Linked DNA regions of Homo sapiens: region 1 is linked to region 2. The links come from fine-mapping of genetic effects on plasma protein levels. A gene starts in region 2. The other region holds a variant in brackets. All regions are shown on one strand. Distances are from middle to middle.

Region 1 (8,451 bases), 26 kb after region 2:
ATCTAGATTGCGGCAAATGTCATTATTTCATTCCTTTTTATGTCTGAGAGGTATTCCATGGTGTGTGTGTGTGTGTGTGTGTATATATGTGTGTGTGTATATATATGTGTATGTATATATGTGTGTATATATGTGTGTATATATATGTGTGTATATATATGTGTATGTGTGTGTGTGTGTGTATGTATATATATATATATATATATATATATATATATATATATATATATATCACATTTTCTTTATCCACTCATTGACTGATGGGCATTTGGGCTGGTTCCATACTTTTTGCAAATGCAAATTGTGCTGCTGTAACTACATGTGTGCAAGTGTCTTTTTCATGTAATGAATTATTTTCCTCTGGGTGATACCCAGTAGTGGGATTGCTGGATCAAATGGTAGCTCTATTTTTAGTTCTTTAAGGAATCTTCACACTGTTTTCCATAGTGGTTGTACTAGTTTACATGCCCACCAGCAGTGTAAAAGTGTTCCTTTGTCACCATACTCATGCCAACAGCTATTTTTTTTAAATTTTTTTTTATTATGTCCATTCTTGCAGGAGTAAGGTGGTATTGCATTGTGGTTTTCACTTGCATTTCCCTGATCATTAGTGATGTTGAGCATGTTTTTCATGTTTCTTGGCCATTTATATATCCTCTTTTGAGGATTATCTATTCATGTCCTTAGGGGACATGGATTAGTATTTTTTTCTTGCTGATTTGTTTGAGTTCTTTTTAGATTCTGGATATTAGTCCTCTGTCAGATGCATAGATTGCAAAATTTTTCTCCCATTCTGTGGGTTGTCTGTGTACTCTCCTGATTATTTCTTTTGCTGCACAGAAGCTTTTTCTTTAATTTCCTTAATTAGGTCCCATTTATTTATTTTTGTTTTTGTTGCATTTGCTTTTGGGTTCTTAGTCATGAAGTTTTTGCCTAAGTCACTGTCTAGAAGGTTTTTCCACTGTTATCTTCTAGAATTTTTATGGTTTCAGGTCTTAGATGTAAGTCTTTGATCCACCTTGAGTTGATATTTTTATAAGATGAGACATGAGACTCCAGTTTCATTCCTCTACATATGGCTTGCCAATTATCCCAGCACCAGTTGTTGAATAGGGTGTCCTTTCCCCACTTTACGTTTTTGTTTGCTTTGTCAAATACTAGTTGGGTGTAAGTATTTGGCTTTATTGCTGGTTCTCTATTTTGTTCCATTATTCTGTGTGCCTGTTTTTATACCAGTACCATGCTGTTTTGGTGACTATAGTCTTTGCTAGTATAGTTTGAAGTTGGGTAATGTGATGCCTCTAGATTTGCTCTTTTTGGTTAGTGTTGCTTCAGCTATGAAGGTACTTTTTTGGTTCTATATGAATTTTAGGATTGTTTTTTCAAGTTCTGTGAAGAATGATGGTATTTTGGTATTTTGATGGGAAATGCATTGAATTTTTAATTTGCTTTCTGGTCCTGGGCTTAAGAAAGAAAGGAAGTGAAGGTATAGTAATAATTAAAGACAGGAAGTTCTTGATCAGGGTTGTGAAAGCTCCTTTCCCTGTAATGGATTAGAGAGGTCCTAAAGATCCTAGCCAGACTACAGATCAAATCCCTGCTCTTCAATATTCTTTGATGTCTCAAGCAAGTACAGTTAAACTCTGAGTCTCCACAATTGTAAAAATTGAGATAATAATATCCAGTTCTCAAGATTATTATAAGGATTAAATGATAATCATGTCTGTGAAGTACTCAGGCACTGCTTGGCACATAGTAACCTCTTGGTAGTTGAGAATCATTCCAAGGCTATTTTTCTAGCCTGCCACAATCCTGCCACCAGACTCCACATTCCCTCCTCATTCAGTAAACATAGAAGTGCAGCCTGGAATGCTTTCCATCTTCTGTCTGTTTAAAAAATCTACTCAAATGAGTAGGTGTGTGGTGGAGTGGCGAGGGGAGAGACTGCGGAGTCAGCAAGAAATCCTTTGGCAGTTAAAGTTATTTGAACTCAAAGCCTGTGTTCGCCCAACTGTAAAGTAGGGATAATAACATTGTCTGCCTCACAGGATTCTTGTATAACATAAGAAAATGCATGTGAAAGACTGAGCACAATGCTTGGTAGCAAGCAGTCAATAAAGGATGCCTATTAACTCTGCTAGGCAATAAGAGCTCAACTCAGTAGCATCCTCCTGTCTGAAGGTTTTTCTGTAATTGCTCCCTGTGCTGCCATAACACACTGTCTGTAGTGCATTTCTTTTCAACATGAAATTGTCATATTGCCATGTGTAAAAATTAGTAGCATATATAAAACATCTATACAAGCTCATGTGCTCCTTAAGGACAAAGACTGTTTCAGTGATGAGGTCCTCACAATCAGTGGGGGTTACATAGTAAAGGCTCAGAAGACATTGTTGAACTGAACTGAAATGACAAATTAAAACAGAAAGCTTTTCTACTAAGATGATAACTAGGAAGACAGTTATCATGTCCCCTAAACAACAGTAAAACTAGCAAGAAGTAAACCATGTTTAACAGTCACTCTAACATGGATGGTCAGGAAATTGATTGCAAGTGAGAAAAAGAGATGGAAATAATTGAGAAAAATATTTATGTGTCAGAAAGAAAAGTGTGAATCAATTACTAGAGTTATGAATATTAAGCAAGTTGCTTGAGAAGCATTGATGTACGGATGAATTGGGCAATTTTTCCCAAGTTTTCCACAAAAAGGAATCAAGATCACTCAGCTGCTGACAGATGATTTTTACCTTTCAGATTCAACATTATTTACTGTCACCCAGCTAAAGACAAAGGAGTTTACACGTTGTGTATGTAAATATTAACTGGGTGATGACTCACATTTTTATGGGAGCTCTATAATTCATAGTTATACGTGCAGACAAGCATCCCACTGAGAGACTGGGTGTGGGGAGAAGGGCATGGAAATTAAACCACTGCAAGTTTCCACGCACACCACTTCCTCCTTATCTGTGAAATTTTATCTTCTCTGTTATTGTCCAAGACGCTGTTGTGCAAACCCCTCACATCTGAAAGTCCTGGGAAGAGAACTGTGGTATGAGTTTTCAGGAATCGGGGCTAGATATGGGAGTACTTTTCCATGAAACAAAAGCGGATAACACCCCCCGCCCTCAACTCCAGGGCTTAATCAAAGGAGACCAAACCCTTGCTATAGGCATCAAGTTTGTATGCAGGATGAAGTATGGCAGACAACGAGGGAGGGAGTGTTTATTCAAACACATATGCAGCCCCTGTCCTAAATCAGTGCCAAATTGGGTGATGGCAAACCTAAGAAATACAGTGTCTCACTGATACAATCCCAGCTCCTCCTCAATGTTAAAGGGTAATTTATAAGTTAAAGTGAAAAGATTTTTTTTTCCAAGAGTCTTGCTCTCACACAGGCTGGAGTGCAGTGACGCTATCTCGGCTCACTGCAAACTCTGCCTCTCGGGTTCAAGCAATTCTCTGCCTCAATCTCCCGAGTAGCTGGGATTATAGGTGCCCACCACCACACCTGGCTAATTTTTGTGTTTTTAGTAGAGATGGGGTTTCACCATCTTGACCAGGCTGGTCTTGAACCCCTGACTTCATGATCCACCTGCCTTGGTCTCCCAAAGTGCTGGGATTACAGGCGTGAACTACCATGCCGAGCCAAGAATATTTTCAAAAACTAAATTTAGTATCTATTGTTTGCCTGAAAGGTCCAGGGGATATTGGTGTTGGTGGGAATGGTTCTAATTCTTATGTTCCTGGAAGTCCACAGATTTCTGTTCATGCCCAGGATCTGCTGCGCTCATGGAGGATGTCAGGCAAGTTGCTTAGCCATATAAGTTTGGGAGCAGGTGGGCAGTTTCCCAATTGGTACAATGAGATGACTGGTTAGCTCATCTCCAAGACAATTGGGCTTAACATTTTGGAGATCATAGATAACTTGGAGAATCTGATGAAAACTGTGAACCTTCTTTCCAGAAGAAAGTACATACATTTGACTTTCAACATTTCTTTTCAGAAACTTTATGGACACCTTGAATTTATCCACGGACTGCAGGTCCGTGTTCTAAAGGATTGTTGCATAGTGTTTTGGATAGTTTGAATACTAAGAATGAATACCAAGAGGATGTAAAACACAAGGGCACTGCTTTTCCTTCAAATATAACAATTTAAAATTCAATATTCCAGAGATATCAAGTTAAAAATGAAAGATCTGATATCTTCCGACTTTTAATCCATATAGTGCTATAAAGTTTTTTTTTTTTTTTTTTTTGAGACGGAGTCTCGCTCTGTCGCCCAGGCCGGACTGCGGACTGCAGTGGCGCAATCTCGGCTCACTGCAAGCTCCGCTTCCCGGGTTCACGCCATTCTCCTGCCTCAGCCTCCCGAGTAGCTGGGACTACAGGTGCCCGCCACCGCGCCCGGCTAATTTTTTGTATTTTTAGTAGACACGGGGTTTCACCTTGTTAGCCAGGATGGTCTCTATCTCCTGACCTCATGATCCACCCGCCTCGGCCTCCCAAAGTGCTGGGGTTACAGGCGTGAGCCACCGCGCCCGGCCTAGTGCTACAAAGTTTTAATCGAATGACTAAATTATAAGCCTTGGGTTCCTTTTGTATATTTTTAAATAAAACTGAATTTTCCTAATGAATTAAACTTTCTACTTGCACTATGATTTCAAAGATATTTCCCCAGGAAAAAATATTTGGCTCCAACTGTGAATATACACAAAATTATCACATTTTGGTAAGAACTAATATCTACTAATGAAACCTCATTGGCTTAATTTGGCTTAAGAAACACCCCCTCCACCACCTCCATGTGACCACTGTTTCAGAATGTTAGAAAAACAAACTAAAGTATTGATGACTTAACAGAAGCACTGTGTTGATACAGTCATAGATTCCCTTTTAAAAATCTGCTTAATGAACTGGAGCATTTTAAAAATTGCTCCAACAGGTCAAACAGGAGACATGTCAGGTGGGAAGTGAAAGGCGGCAAACATAGGCAATTTCGACATACGCAGATAATGGCAAGATCATGTCACAATCATAACATGGCTAAAATCTCCATTTGGACTGAAAAGTATTGGGTATCTTAGTGCTCTCCAAATTGCCTACTTCTTTTTTAACTTAAAAATTTACTTAGACTGTCTTATTTATTTATGTAGTTCCCAAGTCCAGTTCAGTATCTGGCACGCTGTTCTCACTGCAC[G/A]ATCTTTTACTTCTTCCCATTTTTTTGGAAAATGTCAGAGTAGGAGGAAGCAGAAAGATCTGTATGCCTCTCATCTTCCTGTTGTAGAGACTGAAATCCTATTAGATTCAGTTCCTTGAGCCAAGGTGTTGAGTCCCCAGCTACCTCCCTTTCTGGTGTAAATATTTCTGGAATGTGTAACACTTGAATGAGATGGTAACTCATGAATGTAATATAAAATATGGTCTCCCAGTTCAATTTCACACATATACCTGAATCTGGGACATTGAGGAAACCAAAGACATGATGGGCAAGGAAAGATAGGATTTGATTGCATCGAGAAGAGGGGAGAGCCTAGAAAACAACTAAGGACATGAGCTGAGATGGGATGTGGTGGGAGGTGGCAGGAGGCTGGAGGCACCTGGGGCAGGAGAATGCTAGAAGAGCAAGCAGAAAATACAAAGGCTAAATTGGCCTTCTTCAGTTTTACTCCGAATAATTCCAATCCAGTTGACAAGAAATTATATGTACCACACTACTCTGAATGTGTCAGTTATTTTATTTTGAAAACTTTTGCACATGGTAGGCAGTAAAAATATTTGTGGAATGAATGAAATTATCACCAACACCCCTATGCCATATGATAACTAAGTTAAGAATCCTTCTCATTAAAATGCAGTTCTAAAGCTGAGGCCCCCTTAGAGCAGACTGACTTTTATCAGAAACAGTATGGCCATCTGTCCTGAATAAATGCCTTTAAGGTCATTTTTCAAAATTCTTCATCCCATATTTCTTCTATGTCATGGAATCTGTGCATTTCATTCTACTATATTTCCTTTGCTTTTCCTTGTGGCCAGGTTGATCATACAACTCTTACTACCAAAGGACTGACTGCTTGACAGAACCACTGCGTTGTATTAGTGACATTAATTGAACATTGAACAGGTGTAAGGAATTAGAATAGCACCTCACAGTGCCTTAGCTCATTTGCATCTGGTGTGGATTAACGTTATTCCCATTTTACCGATTGAAATTCTAGGAGTTAAAGGTCATACAATTAGTAAGCAGTGGAGCAGATTTCTATTCCTCATCATGTGAACTGAAGTCAGAGCTCTCAAGCCCTGTGCTATGCAGCTTGTGCTCTGCAGAGAGAGGGCACCTAGTCAAGGTTGCTGACAAGTGAAAAACAGTTCACCATATTAATTGAAAATTAAAGTAGAGCTAAAGGATACCAAAGAATAATAAATGCCGAGGCCCCAGTGCCAGGTATGCTCCATTTGTTCCAGAATATGAAGTTCCCACTCTTCTAAATCTCTGCCCACGAGAGCCTGCTGCTCATCAGGCAAAATACAAGGAGGTGATCTCAGAGGGTGGTGCTGCCTTCACACTCTGCTCAAAGGTGTGGGTGACATACAGCCTGCAAGTGACCTTGAGAAGTAGGCTGTTTCTCTCCCACCCCTTCCCAGGACCTATGGGACTCTACAAAACCCTCCTGCTTGTTACAGCTTTCTGAGAGGCGTAGGGCTCCCCAGGGAAATGGCACTGGGGAGGTAATCTCGCTTCTAGCAGTTCCTGTACTCACTGCCTCATTCTTCTAAGCTATCCTGGTGGAAACTGCCGGTCCCCAGCCAGTGAACCAGAACCATGTCCCTGTTCCTTTCTGTAGAGCAATAAAGGAAAAGTCTGGCTTGTGTCAGCTGTGGCTGCCCTGGGTCACAACTCACCCCCAGGGAAGCAGACTGGTTTTCTGAACATTTTCTGAGTTCCAGCCTCTTTACAGCAAGAAGACCAAAAGTGGGAGCTCATACCTTGCTAAGAGGTAGAGCTACTAATTACCCAGTGCCTGCTCTGCTATTGGCGTTTTAACATACATTCTTATTTAATTGTCACCATATTGCTGTGAAGATGATCAGAATATCCCTGGTTTACATACTGGGAAGCTGTGTCTCAGCGAGGTGAAGTGATGTACCCAAGGCAAACCCTACAGAATGTCAAGACTGAGCTTTATAACCAGTCTGACTAGCTGTGAAGTTAATGCTTTCCCCTATTCTATACTACTTTACAGCCCCTCCCTCATGATCTCCTCTGCGGTATGCTCAAACACGAGATATCAGTGCCCACTTCCCATGAGAGGCTCTTCTTTCCAGCTGAGGGCTGGATCCTTGCAGCATTCATTCTGCTAAGCCAGAGAAGGGCTCCTAAACTCTTCCCTCTCCTGTCCACTTCCTAGTGCAACTTCATTATATTTGGTGAGCTAGGACATCTGGTTTTGTAGCAGCCTTCCCCTGAGGTTAAATTCATCTTTGACCGTGTCCCATGTACTATTCTCTAAAATCCAGAGAATTTACTTGCAAATTGTTTGAAAGTCAATGCTGTTTCTGATGGGGACACAGAATGCACAATAGAAGATAGAGAAACACAGAAATCCACTTTATCTCCCCACTTCACTATGCGAGCTTCCAGGCCATGTATCAGAATGCCTGGGCATGGGGTAATGAAAGGGTAAGGAAAGACCAGATAGGCTCATCCCAAACTCTGTCATTTAATGGCTGTGACCATAGGCAATTAAGGTCATCTGCACCTCAGTTTGTTCATCTTTACCTTCCAGATAGGTATTACCTGTAGGAGCCCACTCAAATTAAGGAGAGTAAATGAAGCCAGAACCCTAATGAGCTATTCATCCTCCAAAAAGAATAAACTATATTAAAAGAAAAAACAAAATAACAAAGAAGACCAAAAACACCTCCACAAAGAAAGTCAACATGGAAAATCATCTGGTAATGTTTACAGGAGGCCTAAGAGTGAGAGGATTCTTGACAACCTGTAGCTGTTTTTATCATTTCCACCCTTGCATTGGAATATGGCTTAGGAAAGTCTCTGCCTGTGCAGTGCCTTAGTTTTCCTCTCTGTAGAATGGAAATAATCTGAGTCTCCTGCCTGTCTTACACATTCTCACAGAAGCTTTACAAAATATACCTGATAGCTGTGAAACATTGAGTTCCCTAGGGATAGTCTACAGGAGCAGATTTCAGCAACCCAATCACCCATAGCCAATATATAATTTTACAACTTTTTTTTTTCACTGTGACTATCCACTAGACTGTAAGCTCCATGAAACAGAAAACTGTGTTAGATTTTGCTCAGTGGTGTATCCCTGGGCTAGGAGAGGCTGCAGTGCATTGCTCGGGTCCTGCCTTCAGGATGGAGGCATGCTTTCCCCCAGCTGCTGGGAGCATCAGCTGCCAATGGTTCACAGCTGATTGCCTTCCT
Region 2 (8,451 bases):
TGCTTGTAAAGACAGCACACAAAATTCATGTATACTCTTCACCCAGGTTCCTCTAATGTTAATTTTCATAACTCTAGAGTGTCTAGGAATGCTAAGAAATGCTAAGAAATTAACCTTGGTATAACACCAAACTGATTTCATCAGTTCTTCCACAAATGTCAAACCAGGATAGGTTACTGTGCAGCATTTAGCCCTTATGGCTTTTGAAATAAAGAGTTTACTTTCAATTTTTGAAATTGATCGAGACCTTAAGATTATTGAGAGAATGAAAACCTGATAAAAACTTCATTCTGCGGCGGCAAAGTGTGTCAGCCATCCTCTGTGCATGTTTTAGCGATCCTTAAGAAATCTTGAAAGACCATCCTGCATGTTGGTAAATGCAATAAATCAAAATGAGATGTGAACAATACAGTTGGAACCCCTACTATAGACACTGGAATATTGGGAATCAAAGACATAAGCAAAATGGTTCCCCTGTGGGAAAACCTGCAGGCCTCCTTGCGGAGGGCCGTGGGGACACTGGCTGGGGTTTGGACTGCTGATTTGGTCTTTCACTGCATATGTATTGAGGGCCTGTTATGTACCAGCACTTGTCTAGGCACTGGGGATACAGTGGTGAATGAGACAAAGCCCCTGTGTTCATGAAGCTTATATTTTAGTGAGGGAGACAAAACAAGAAACAAATGCCAATCAGGTAGTGACAAGGGCATTGTAGGAAACAAAGCAGGCTGAGGGAGTGGAGACAGCGAGATGTGTGGGGAGAGGAGGTGGTCTTGGAAAGCATCCCCGAGGAAGTGGGCCCTGTGAGTACTCAATACTCAGAACCATGACTCAGGACGACTGCCCTGAACTACACTGAGGCTTGGTCTTGCTTAGATTAGGGAAATAGTCCGACCATGGAAAACGGAGTTCCCACCCAACCTCTCCACCTTCAAATGCACCTCGATGCTGCCATAGCCCTGTTGCATAGATTCTTTCTCCTCTTCTCCAGTCTGTGGCTTGTCATTGAATTCATAAACTCAGCTCTAACACAAACTGCCACTCCAAAACTTCTCCTTGAGATTCTTTGAAGCCCGGGGTAAAAAGTAGATACCAATAAATGGACCACTTTTCCTCTGAACTCAGACTCCGTGGAAAGCTGGCTTGCCCAACATCAGCCACATCAATTTCAGATTCACTAAACTTTTACTACCTGCCCATGATGTGCTAGGCATTTGTTTTAGACTTCAATTTGCTTTAGAGTTTTCTTATACTTTATCCTACAAGTATCACAGTAACACAAGTAGCAGCTTGTGAGGTGGGAGTCACACCTTCCTTTTTCTTCCTTTGCTTTTCTTTCCTTTCCATTCCTTTCCTTTCCTTTCCTTTCCTTTCCTTTCCTTTCTCTTTCCCTTCCTTTCTTCCTTCCTTCTTTCCTTCCTTCCTTCAATCCTTCCTTCCTCCCTCCCTCCCTTCCTTCTCTCTCTCTCTTTCTTTCTTTCTTCTCTTTCTTTTTTGCCAGAATGAGATACCGAATGTCACAGATACAAGCAGGAGCTGTGAATCCAGGTTTCCTGCATCCAAGCCCAGGGCTCCTTCCGCTACACAGTAGCTCAATCTCACTAGAAAATTTCACCTTCATCTTATTCCACACAGGACCCAGTGCCCTACAGCCTGTGCTGACCCAAGTTAGAGCAGATTCCCTGAGAACAACCTAGGCATGCCCTGGGATGGTGAAATACCACTCATGGGGACCCAGGTAAGGCCTCCTGGTAGTTGTTAGTGCCAGAGACCATCATCCAAACTTCAGAAGCCGGCACTTGAAGAGGTGATTTTCAACAGAGAAACTGTGATCAATGGCAGCACCACAGACCACTCAGCTATGATGGCAACACCTTTTAAAGATGGCACTTTGATTAGAAAGATTTTCTTTTTAGCAGATCCTATGTGCTATTGTCAAGCCTATATTCGAGACTCCTCCCCTCTTTTAAAATAAACCTGAAAGCTAATTTGGTTATACAAGGCAGCCCAACTGCACAAAACCATCAACAACTGTTCCCTGAGAACAGACTAAGCCTGTAGCCAACGTCAGATGTAATAGCTCCCCAGCCCATAAGCAATTTCTTTCCTTACAGATTTTTCACTGAGACTGGAGGCTGAACTCAAAGGCATAATCATTTTTAAAAGTGCTTCCAGGGTAATTCGTGTCAGTCCTGGGGCAGCTGGATCTTATTGTAAAGAAGTTGTTTTGCATGTTTGTGAGTTTTCAACCCTGTGATTAGTAGACGGGGAGAAGGAGGCAACAGAGGGTGGAAGGAGGAAAGGAAACCAAAATTACTAGACACTGCACACCCAAAAATGCCGAGTAAGAGGAGGTGGAAGAGGTATCTCGCCTATCAGCTTTTCCCTTGACTCCCATGGGCCAAATAAAATCATGTTATTTCACCTTCTTCCTCTTTTGCTTTTCTTCAAATAGTTTGGGAGTTCATGACAAACCAGTCACAGTTGGCAAGTTTAAAACTAAACATCATTTGGCTTCTCTCTCTAGCAGGGATGAACACAAAGATCAACAGAATGCAAGAAAAAGCCAAGAGTGTTTTCAGGGGTGAGCCACAGCTCTGTGGAGCCTTCAGAGATCATGCAGCCTGACTGCTCACTTTCCAAATGAGGCGGGAGACTGGAGGGCTGAGCGTCTGGGCCAAGGTCACACCACAAGTCATTAGAACCAGGATCCAGACCCAGGCCTCCTGATTCAGAGCCTAGGGCTCTTCCTCTATGGCTTGGGGAACCATGGCTGAGTGCTGCTTGACTGTGGCACAAAAAACGGCTGTTAGAAAGGAGTCGCACCCATGCGATAGTGCTCCTGAGAGGTGAGGACTGGAGGGACAGTTGTAATTAGGTCATTGCCATGCTCCACATTAGGCAGTGGGCCTGGCTGTGAGGAGTCATGGAGACAACAATCAAGGTGAGCCTGGTCTCTGAATCAGCATCTGTCAGAAGGGGTTTTGAATAACTAAATCTGCTCACCAGAGGCCATGGGGGTGGATGAGAATGGCCCACAAAGGCTGTCCAAGCAGCCTCCACAGCCCCGGCACCCTCACCTGCTGCTGCCTGTGTGAGTCCTCTCCCCACCCCTTCTACAGTCCGGCTGAGCCCCTCCACAGTCCTGGTAACCAAGTAGGGATCATCCCTCTGGGGCTGGGCTTCTGCTGTGGTCTTGCAGGTCCCCACCCTCTCCAGGAGGAAGAACTGCCCTGAATCTGGTCCTGTGGCACTGGCTCTGCTGACAGAGTCAGCTGTCGGGTGGGAGCCCACTCTGGGTGGAGGCAGCAGCCTCTCAGGAGCCCGTCACTGTGGCAAAGTACAAACTCTTTGAAGCAAAGACTCTGTGGATCCAAACCCCAGCTTTCTAGCCGAGGAAATACTGGATCTCTAGACTGCAGTTTGTCTACCTATAAATGGGATATACCCTTGTTTTGAGCATTACACGAGATGATCCACATAAAGCACTTAGCATGGAGCCTGCTCAGGGTAAGCACTCAATAAATGGTAGCTGTTGTCATTACTTAAAGGCCCGCTCTCTTTCCTGGCTCCCCCACCCATCGGTGTTTCTTCCTCTTGGATTTCCCATCATCACCTCTCTACTGGTTGTGTCCCCCAGGGTTCTATGCTTTTTCTTTTTTCTATTTTCTTTTTTTTTTTTTTTTGAGGCAGAGTCTTGCTCTGCCACCCAGGAGGGAATACAGTGGTGCGAGCATGGCTCACTGCAGCCTCGACTCCCTGGGCTCAAGTGATCCTCCTACCTTAGCCTCCTGAGTAGCTGGGACCACAGGCTGCATGCAACTACACCGGGCTAATTTTTTTTTTTCTGTAGAGATAGGGTCTGGCTGTGTTCCCTAGGCTGGTCTCGAACTCTTGATCTCAAGTGATCCTCCCTCCCCAGCCTCCCAAAGTGTTTGGGATTACAGGCGTGAGCCACCACACCTGGCCAGATTTTGTGCTTGACCCCTCCAATCCCCACTACACTAAGTACTTGTTGCCACACATCTGGGTTGCTCTACAGATAGCACATGCAGCAGCCCTCCAGGTGGGCTTCCTCCTCCCTGGACTGCCTCCTCCGTTCTCTCCTCCAAGCCTCCTAGAGTGCTGGCTCCATCTAGGCTGTTGTAAATAATCAGCCTAGCAGTCAGTGCCTACTAGGATGAGCTCCTGACCAAGCACCTGGGCTGAGACCCAGCTGAGACAATCACACCCCACAAAAAAGTACAAGCTCGAAAAAATTCCATGCCACTGCTTAAGGCAGAATGCAGTCAGGGGAAGACAGCACCTCTCTCCAAAACCCTTTAGTAAACTATTTTCCAGCAATAAAACCCACTTTAAATTCAGGCAGAGAGAAGGACCTCAGTACTCATAATTGAGAGAGCACATTTAATCAAGGCAGTAGACAGCTATTTAATTCCACTTTCTTTTGCCTAAATGTCCTTGTCCCCTCTTTTCCATTCACTTGCTCTAAATCAATAGTTCTCAAACCCTCCGTGCTGAGAGATCAATTGTTTATTTTTCTTGTTCCCAAACTACTGTGGGCCAGTACTTTTGTAAAATGGTAAAAATAAATTTCTAAAAAAGAAAAATGCCATTCCGATGGCACAGAAAGTTTTAATTTCTATAAAGTTTATTACTTTCAGTTTCTGTACATATCTTTTGGTAGTCTGGTAAGCAAGCTTCTCGCCGACCTACACCAGCCCCTGGCCCAAACTGAGAGTAGGTAGAACAGCTTCTGGAAGGAACAGAGCCACAGAGGAGTCTGTCTCCCACAGACACTCCCCATCCCAGGTTTTTGTCCTGTCATGTAGTCCGCTCAGCAGCAGCCCTGCTCCACCCAGAGCATGCAGTGGTGAGGTTTGGGGTGGGATTTGCCCAGGCTTTGGTTACTGATATTCCTTGAGAGTCTAGCAGCCCCCAGGAGGAGGGATATGCAGAGATGTTCCCAGCCCCAGTGCAGTGCAGGGACTGGCCCTTACCATTCCATGCCAGCCCTGTTGATCTCCTCCCACCAGCACTCCGTGGGTTCCCCGAGGCTCTGTGGCGTGGGCATGCAGGCGTAGTTCCATTGTCTGTCAGAACCTTCCTTCTTGCTGAAGATGCTCCTCACGGCCACTATCACCTGCCCCTGGGGACACTGGTAGCTGAAGCCTTGCCGGTTCAAATTCACCCACCCATCATCGCTGTAGTCATGATACTGCTGGTATGGGTATCCATAATCGCCATACTGGCCCCAGGCCATGGTGACTAGGGGCAGAAGTACCCAGAGAAGACTGAGGTCCATGCTGCCTGGGATTTTGGCAAACAATGTCACTCTAAGATTGCTGGTCTGACCGTTTTATATAGCTGCCGCTGACATGTGGCTTCCAGATGTGGGTGAGAAGGATCCAACTGCAGTGTGTCATTGCTTAAGCAAAACTTTTCCATGCTGAGATGTCAGCCATAAGGACATTCAGCTTGTTTTAAGGTGGAATTCTAGGAATATACCAGCAGCATGTAAGTCTAAGAAGCTCCCTGGAGAAAGAACAACTTTGTATCTAGATTATAAAAGCCAACTGCTGCTCTACCCTGTAGAAATATTCACTTGAAAAACACTGATTAGTAGCATATTTGTCCCTCACCTTTCAGCACCTCACCCCTTTCTGTCCTACCCTACCCGCTACTAGCAAACCCCTGTATTTGTTCTCCAAACTAGCCTTCCGGGCCACACAAATACCCAGACAGTGATTTCAAAATACCGAAATCATAGACTGAAGTAACAGAGCCATCTAGGATTTCTGTAAGGCTGAATGCCTGTTTTTTTTTTTAAGTTGTCAATCCAACACTTTTTAACCCTTGAGTATAAGCGCGGGTATACCAGTTTGCAGGGCTACTCTGAGAACTCATAAGTTGCATAAGGAAGTACTATGGGCCCATGGGGAGATAAGTTGGATATGATTTCTACACTTAAGCATTCTACCATGCTGCTGAAATTGGACCCAGTCAAGTCTAGAAAGTGTGCTCTGCTCTCAAAATGTAATGGGTTTAATCTAAATAAACCCCCTATTTATCCTTCAGTATTTTTGCCCTCACATTGAATTTTCTTTTCATTGAGTTATAATTTACATATAATTAATTCACCTTTTAAAATACATAATGTACAGTAACATAGCCAGCACCCTAATCAAGACTTAGAACAGTTCCATCAATCCAAAACATCCCCTTATATCCCTTTGCAGTCAAATCTTCCCAAACACCCAGCCATTGGTAACCACTGATTTACTTTCTGTCTCTATGGTTTTGCCTTTTCCAGAATGTCAAGTAAATGGAATCATACCACACGTAGCCTTTCATGTCCATCTTTCACTTAGCATAATGCTTTTAAGGTTCATCCATTTTAAAATTCAACATCTCATTGTATGTGTTAGTATTTTGTTTCTTGTTATTGTTGAGTAATATTCCATAGCATGGATGTACCACAGATTGTTTATACATTTACTAGTTGAAAGACATTTGGGTTGTTTCCAGTTTTTGAAAATTCATTACTTTTTATGTAATGAATTTTATATTCATTATATTTTATATAATGAATTACATAAATGTAATTATAAAGTTGATATAAACATCTATGTATAGGTTTTTGTGTGAACAAATTTTTATTTCATTTGGGTCAATACCTAGGAGTGAGATTGCTGGTTCACAAGGTAATGTATGTTTAACTTTAAAAGAAACTACTGAGGCCGGGTGTGGTGGCTCATGCTTGTAATCCCAGCACTTTAGGAGGCCGAGGCGGGCGGATCACGAGGTCAGGAGATCGAGACCATCCTGGCTAACATGGTGAAACCCCGCCTCTACTAAAAATACAAAAAATTAGCCAGGCTTAGTGGCGGGCGCCTGTAGTCCCAGCTACTCGGGAGGCTGAGACAGGAGAATGGCGTGAACCCGAGAAGCGGAGCTTGCAGTGAGCCGAGATTGTGCCACTGCACTCCAGCCTGGGCTACAGAGCGAGACTCCGTCTCAAAAAAACAAAAAAAAGAAAGCAAGAAACTACCTAGCTGATTTCCAAAGTGGTGATACCATTGCCCACCACTACCAGAAAATTGCCATTAAAAAATTTTAGCTATTCAAATAGGTTTGTAGTGATATTTCAGTGTGGTTGTGATTTTCATTTCTCTAATGATCCATGATTTTGAGCATCTTTTCATGTGCTCATTACCCATTCCATGCATCCGTTGATGATTTGGCTTTTCAAATTTTTTGAAACCTTTGGGCATCTCTTAAGCACATAGTATTTCCCATTTCTCATCAGTATTGTTCTTAAAGTTTCTTAGAATTGTGATCATAGACCAATTCTATCTACAGCCTCTGTGAAGTTTGTTAAAATGTAGACAGTGGCTCTTCTCCAGGCCTGCTAAATCATAACCTCACAAGGGGTGCTCAGGTATTTATATTTTAAAAAATTTTCCAGGTGATTCTTATTCACATCAATTGCTAAGAGTCACCTTCCTAAAGGAATGTGGAGCCAGAGAAAAATCACACTATTAATCCCACCATCTGCCTAGCCTGTGGCACATTTACCAGACGGTATTCAGTCTAGATCAAACACCAAGATAGTCTTGAAAGGGAAAGACAGTCATACATGAGAATAAAGCAACAAGTAACTCGTGTGTGTGTGTGTGTGTGTGTGTGTTTGTGTGTGTGTTGGGCATGCAGTTTTCTTTGATGATCATGGTTACTGAAGCGAGGGGGAGAGGATCTGGGCTGAACAGCTATGTGAGGCTTAGTTTTGTTTTTAGCACCATCTTCTCCCACCACTTCCATCCGTAAGTAACTGCCCAGTGCTGGCATCGGAATTCTTCCTAGCTTAGAAGGATCTCTCTGATTCATGATATGCTGAAGCAATCATTCTCCACCTTATCAGCATTTAAGGATTACCTGGAAAGCTTTTGGAAACCTCCAGAGTCTAAGCAATTTCTGGACCAATCAGATCAGAAGCTTCTGAGCAGGGTCCTGACAATGACGTCCTTTGAAACCTTCCCTATAGGCTTCTCACCGGAAGCCAGGGTTGAGAACCTCTATGCTAGAGGGTTTTTTTTTTTTTTTAATTTTTTCAGTTTATCATCCTGATGCTCATGAGTTGTATCTTGCATTCTGGACATGATATGAGCTATTTTAAACCTTAAAGAGCTCTAAGAGACAAAGCAGATTATCATAAACACTCATCTTTATTATACATTTGTTTTCCAACAATTTCCAGGGCCTCTGCCTGATCTCCACTCTCCGCAGATTTCTTTCAACTACAGCTAGAACTACCTCAGCTGGATTCCCTTTAATGTGCAAAAATAAATATCTTCATGCTATGGTCCAGTTTTAATATAGATTTCTGTTACTTAAAGCTGAAAGCAACCTAACTCATCCAGTGTCTCAGGAGATTCCAGAAACTGCTGATGC

Direction of the effects. Positions count from the first base shown, and alleles are read on the strand shown. Strength reflects both the effect of a copy and how common the allele is.
As copies of G replace A in region 1, the plasma level of the protein whose gene starts at base 5,337 in region 2 goes up (weak association).

Evidence for each region. A credible set is the group of variants that fine-mapping cannot tell apart. PIP is the posterior inclusion probability: the model's chance that the variant is causal. The UK Biobank Pharma Proteomics Project read protein levels with antibody pairs (Olink). The fine-mapping took linkage between variants from a reference panel, not from the people measured, so its PIPs are less certain.
Region 1: its variant is the best candidate, but not a certain one, in a credible set for the plasma level of the DPT protein (UK Biobank, PIP 0.70).

What each region holds. Positions count from the first base shown.
Region 1 is chr1:168,749,436-168,757,886 of GRCh38, forward strand. No RefSeq gene overlaps it. Among named protein-coding and RNA genes, the nearest start is that of DPT, 24 kb to the left of the region's middle. The variant G/A (reference allele first, on the strand shown) is at 5,203.
Region 2 is chr1:168,723,870-168,732,320 of GRCh38, forward strand. DPT (dermatopontin) reads right to left here and starts at 5,337. Exons shown (of 4, transcript NM_001937.5): 1 at 5,001-5,337. The coding sequence starts at 5,305.